Regions from separate parts of the Homo sapiens genome. Here region 1 is linked to region 2. Evidence: fine-mapped expression QTL. A gene starts in region 2. The other region holds a variant in brackets. All regions are shown on one strand. Distances are between the middles of the regions.

Region 1 (2,913 bases), 150 kb after region 2:
TCCTCTGCTCTGCCACCTACCTTGAGGATGCTTTACATGTGGCTAAAAGTGGAGGCAGAGATATTTGGATAAATAAATGCTAGAGAATTGGAAATTCCTAGGACAAGTCAATTTGGATATGTCTATGTCATCCTTTTTTTTCTAAGAGACACGTAACTCTGATCCTTAAGGAGTTAGAGAGTTCCCATAGCTTAGGGTCTGGAAGCCATATTCCTTTTTATGTAACATCCTTGAATATGCTACTCGTATACCCTAAATTTACTCTGTAATTTTTTTTTTTTTATTTGAGAGGGAGTCTCACTCTGCTGCCTATCCTGAAGTGCAGTGGTGTGATCTTCACTCACTGCAACCTCCTCCACCCAAGTTCAAGCGATTTTCCCACCTCAGGCTCCTGAGTACCTGGGATTACAGGCACATGCCACCAAACCCGGCTAATTTTTGTGTTTCTAGTAGAAGCGGGATTTCACCATGTTGGCCAGGCTGGTCTCGAACTCCTGACCTCAGGTAACCCACCCACCTTAGCCTCCCAAAATGTTGGGATTTCAGGCATGAGCCACCATGCCTGGCCTATAATTATTCTTCACAACATATTTCAGCAATAGGATTAATTATATGTGTCATTAATTATTCAATGTTTGTCTGTCTTACTAAAGTGTGAGCTCCAAAAGGACAGGAGCTTACCACAAATAGCTACAAATTACCTATACACATCCTAGGTACTGTTTTAAGCCCTTCAGATACAACCTGCTCACCCAGAACTCCCATTCTGGTTCCAGGATGGGGACAAAGGGAATTGCTACCTAACACAGTTGTCAGAAAAAGTCTCTCAAATCAGGTTGCATGAAAACGGAGACTGAAAGCAGTGAAGGACCATATCATGAAGCTCTCTGGGAGGAGGGGCATTTAAAGAAGAGAAAATGGAAAGTGCAAAGGTTTTGAGGGCTGGAACATGTTTGGTATATTCAAGGAACAGCAAGAAGACCAATGCAACTGTTGCAGAATAATCCCATGTGAGAGTGGTGGAAGATGAAATCAGAGAGGTAGCAGGTGGCCCTAGCTTTTACTCTGAGTGCGACGGGAAGCTGTTTTTGAGCAAGGGGAGAAAGACAGAGAGAGAGAGAGAGAGAGAGACAAAGAGAGAGAGAGAGAGAGAATTGGGAGGTATGTGACTGGGAGGTATGTGACTCAGGAGTTGGGTTTTGTTCGTTTAAAGTTTGAGATGTGTGTTAAGAATCCAGCTGAGATGTAAAGTTGGGTTGAGGCATGTGGAATTCAGGAGAGAGGTCTAGCAGGAGAGATAAACCTGGGAGCCATCAGTGTAAATTGCATTTAACACCATGAGCCTGAAAGAGGTCTTAGAGAGGTCTCTAGTGAGAAGGGTAGACC[G/A]GGAAAAGAAAGCCGAGGGCTGGGTCTGGGGCCATTGATGTTCAGACGTCTGAGATCTGAGCAGGGACCAGGAGAAACAACCAAGAAGGAGTGGCCAGTGATGTAGAAGGAGACTCTAGAGAAAAGAGCATCCTGGAGGCAAATCATAAAAGACTTTCAGGAAGAAGGTAGGGACAAAAATTGTCAAATGTTTCTGAGAGACTGAGTAAGATGAAGACCGAGAATTGATGATTGGGCTTTGTAACATGGAGGTATTGGAAACCTAGATAAGGGCTGTTTTGGTGAGGTGATGGGCAAAAAAGCCCAAAAGCATTGAGTTCAAGATGGAAAAAGAGGTCAGAAATTGGAGACCATTCTGCAAAGGAGAGCAGAGAAATGAGTGGGAACTAGAAGTAGGTAAAGGGTGAGCAAAGGGTTTGTGTTTTGCATTGGATGGAAAAGGTCAAGAAGAGAGAGAAAATTTGATGGTGCAGGAGACAGCGTGGCTGACCGATCAATGACCTTGTTATTGAAAAAGAGAATGAGGACCTAGGGTTCAAGCAGAAGGGCTGGCATTAGAGCTTTCAGTTCATCTGTGATGTTGAGTGGGAATGCAGAGCTTCTAGGACAAATGCCCTGAGGGTGGTAGATGTCTTGGTGGAAGCCTGCAACATTTTCTTCTGATTGCTTCTATTTTCTTAGTCCAGAGTGAGGAGGAGAAAGAAGTTACAAAATAATAGTTTAGTCTCTTAATTGGATTTTCTCCAATCACACTAGGCAGAAAAGCATATAAATGGATGACTTGCGAAATGGAGTAGGATTGGAAGGTAGCATTTGGGCCCCTTGAGGTAGGATCTCATGCATTTGAAATAGGCCAGTCAATATGCTTGCGTATTTTTCTCCCACTAAGTTCAGCTGCTTGGATAAAGGTTCAGAATAGTTAGAGAGTGAGATTTAATAAGGGTTGAGGGTTTTTTTTCCTAGGTGAGAATTAGGGAGTGAGGAAAAAAGGAGCTGGAGTATGTTCTGGGGAGTAATGGTAACAGCACCTACTTGAATGGAAGCTGGATAAGAAGAGTGAGGCAATGGAGGAGTTGAGGGACAGTACAACCATGTATTGATCATATATTTAGATATAATCATGTATTTAGTTTATAGAGGGGTCAATAATTTTTGGAATTGGCAAACTGAAAATGAGAAGTGGTGGTTGGAAAGTAGGATTCTTAGAATTGAGATAACAGAGTGCAGTTACTTGTGTAAAAAGGTCTAGGGCATGACTATAAGGGAGAGTGGATGAGTTAGGATGGAGGAAAACAATCCCCAGAAAAGAGGAGGTCATGGAATGGGCAGTCCAGGGCTTTGCAGGGATTTCTCTATGGAAAGCAAAATCACTGAGAATCACAGCTGAGGTAGTATGGGAGAGGGTGACCATGACCCAGGTGCCGGGATCTTGTAGAAATGAGGGGAATGACACAGGGCTCAATAGTTGACTATGACAAGGAGGGTAGTGGGTTGTTCGGTATGGCCGCATGACCCTTAAAACCGGGA
Region 2 (2,913 bases):
CATCTAACCAAAGGGAATACTGCAGAAAGACCTGTTTCCAGAAAGTTCGAAATTCACACACACATTACATTAGAACTCTGATCCTGCCTATTAATATTTTAGGAAAAAGCGCTTCCCAAGGGTTTGATTTTTAAGTTTCTCAGAAAATTAAGCAGGGAGGAGGGGTAAAGACATAAAACCGTGTGTTTTGTGCCGTTCCCCAATTCTTCCAAACGGAGGAAAGCCTGGAAGCGGCTCATACTCACCACCCACACCTCTGCATCTGGGTCATTTACCTGGAACGCCAGAATACCAAGGTGTTAGCAGACATCCTGTGCTGTTCCATTCCTTTTAAATTCATTTAAGCACATTTTTTATTAATTTGTTAAGTGCCAGACACTGCAATAGGCATCGAGGGTACAAAATCTGAACAGGATATAGTCCAGATGAGGACGGGTGAAGGGGTTTCTGGCTGACACAACAGATGTTTTTAACAGGCAGCCACACATTTTTGAAAAGCCTTCACGGGAGCTCTGGAGAGGACTCGCCAACCCAGAACGGGTATTTTAAGGGCCCTCCACCCCCACCAGTCTCAAGAAATGAGGGAAATGATTATGAAGGGGGTCCCCAAGCCGACTAAAAAGTTTAATGATGCTATAAAGGGTTTTGGTCGGCTTCGTCTCCTAGGCCCTGAGATATGTTCAGTGTCGTCCGCGGGCCGGACGTTAACGCAGGAGCCAGGGCCGCTTCTTCTGAGGTCCCCTGGGAAGTTCCACGCGCGGAACCAGCCCCTTCCAGGGTGTGAGCCCTGGTATGGGACTCGCTTCCATGAACACATCCGCGTCTCTTAGACGGGGGAGAAAGTGGGGGCTCCCCAAGCAGAAAGCCCAAGTCCCGTCCTCCCCACTAACTGTGCGCCCCTGCGACTCTGCCCGCTAGTCAGTTACACGGCCCGCTAGGCCAGGGGGCGGAGCTGGGAGCCGGGCGGGTCCCCCTCCCACCGCGGCCGCCTGACCTGCACCAAGGCCGCCAGCGCGAAGAAGGCGGCCATGAGTCCGTTGCAGGCCCGCCACAGCGCTGGCGCCATGGCTCGGAGAACACGGCGCGGGGCGGTGAGTCCTGCCACGTGCGGGGCGGTGAGTCCTGCCACGTACGGTCCGCCTTCCTCCTTGCGCGGAGGGACCGAGACCCCCGCCTCGGTTTCGGTGCCTTGGGGACACTGCCGTGGCCGTCGCTCCGCCCGGGGGCGGGGAGCGAAGGGCGTGGGTGTAGCCCCCACTCAGCGACCCATTCAGCCCGCCCCGAACGCCGCGGGGTGTAGGCGGCGCCGTCCTGGTTTCGCGGATGGGAAAGCGAGTCCCTCAGGGAGCGCAGGTCTCGGTGGTGGACGGAAGTCGAATTTGAACCCGTATAGGTTCAACTCCAAACCCTGTTTTCACTAAAGCTACCTTCCTCACAAAAAAAAAAAAAAAGAAGAAAGAAAAAAAAGAAGGAAAAAAGGAAGGAAGGCAGGCGGGAGGGGAGAGAGGAAGAAAGAGAAAGAAAGAAAAAGAAAGAAGGAAAGAAAGGGCTGGGCGCAGTGGCTCACGCCTGTAATCCCAGCACTGTGGGAGGCCGAGGTGGGCGGATCACCTGAGGTCAGGAGTTCGAAAGCAGCCTGGCCAACATGGTGAAACCCCGTATCTCTACTAAAAATACGAAAAAATTAGTCGGGCGTGGTGGCGGGAGCCTGTAATCCCAGCTACTCAGGAGGCTGAGGCAGGAGAATTGCTTGAACCCGGGCGGCGGAGGTTGCAGTGAGCCCAGATTGTGCCACTGCACTCCAGCCTGGGCAACAAAGCGAGACTCCTCAAAAAAAAAAGGATAAAAATTGTTTTTACAAAAATAAGAAAGAGAAAGAAAAAGAGATGTGTGTGTGTGTGTGTGTGTGTGTGTGTGTGTGTGTGTGTGTGTTCTGTTTAGTATTTATGCATTTCCTTCCAAAGCTCAGGAACTTTCAAATCCCTGTAAGCATTATGGTAATTTCTAGAGTGACGACAGTTATATTAACATCTTATACGGCTCACAGCTTTTCGGCAGACAGGCTCATTTATCTTCATGGGCTTTTATTATAAAAGATATTTACATATTATACATATTTACAATTCTCTCCCACCACCAAAACCAACAAAATTTCCAAAATTGCTCATGAATTTCTTATGAACCGAAGACACTGAAATATTCACTGTTCTCCCCTAGTCTGTCTGGTCTTTTTCTGTTTTGTAATTCGCCCTTCTGCTTAGTTCCTCCCCGGGCTCATTTACACATCCATAGGCCTCATTTCTGCTGTTCTAAAGAGTCTTTATCGCTTCAAATCAGGAGCTTCTGTGCCTGTCCTCTTTTCCTTTGAGCTAAATCTCCTAAAACTGTCTAGTTTTTTTTTTCTTTCCCTCTCAGTTTCATTCTTTTCACGAAACACTTATTTCAAGAACGTTGTCTGCTCTGTGCCTGGTGCTGGGACCGTGAAGGTCCCGTGCCGGGACTAGGCAGGGAGCCTGGCGGCTGGCGGGGGTGGGCACCCGTGTTTGCAGAGGTGGGGTGGGGACAGCGGGGACCAGCACTGGGTGGAGTTCCACAGCTAAATCAGCCCTGGGATTGGAAACAAGCGAAGACTATTCTCACTGTGCTTTTCCTTACATAAAAGAAAAAAATGAGAGCGAGAGTGCTAGGGGCTGACTTGCATTCCCCCTGCACCCCCAATTCATATGCTGAAGCCCTAACCCCCAGTGCCTCAAAATGGGACTGCATTTGCAGACAGGGACTTGACAGAGATGATTAAGTTAAAATGAGGTTATAGGGTGGACCCTAATCCAATATGACTAGTGTCCTGATACGAAGAGGGGACAGTTACAGAGGGAAGACCACATGGGCACACAGGGAGAAGACGGCCGTCTG

Direction of the effects. Alleles are on the strand shown, and positions count from the first base shown. SD is a standard deviation of normalised expression in the study named.
For the expression in aorta of the gene that starts at base 1,238 in region 2, allele A in region 1 goes with a higher level than allele G (large effect, 0.89 SD a copy in GTEx).

The links. PIP is the estimated chance that this variant, and not a neighbour inherited with it, causes the effect.
Region 1: its variant is the best candidate, but not a certain one, in a credible set for the expression of TMEM220 in aorta (GTEx, PIP 0.80).

Annotation. Positions count from the first base shown.
Region 1 is chr17:10,880,785-10,883,697 of GRCh38, forward strand. LOC124903926 (a long non-coding RNA gene) reads left to right here. Exons shown (of 2, transcript XR_007065619.1): 2 at 1-111. Among named protein-coding and RNA genes, the nearest start is that of PIRT, 44 kb to the left of the region's middle. The variant G/A (reference allele first, on the strand shown) is at 1,387.
Region 2 is chr17:10,728,786-10,731,698 of GRCh38, forward strand. It overlaps TMEM220 (transmembrane protein 220), which reads right to left and starts at 1,238. Exons shown (of 6, transcript NM_001004313.3): 1 at 995-1,238; 2 at 246-275. The coding sequence starts at 1,066. TMEM220-AS1 (TMEM220 antisense RNA 1) reads left to right here and starts at 992. Exons shown (of 4, transcript NR_073458.1): 1 at 992-1,115. RefSeq lists enhancers at 690-1,276, 1,277-1,863 and silencers at 877-1,046, 1,057-1,296.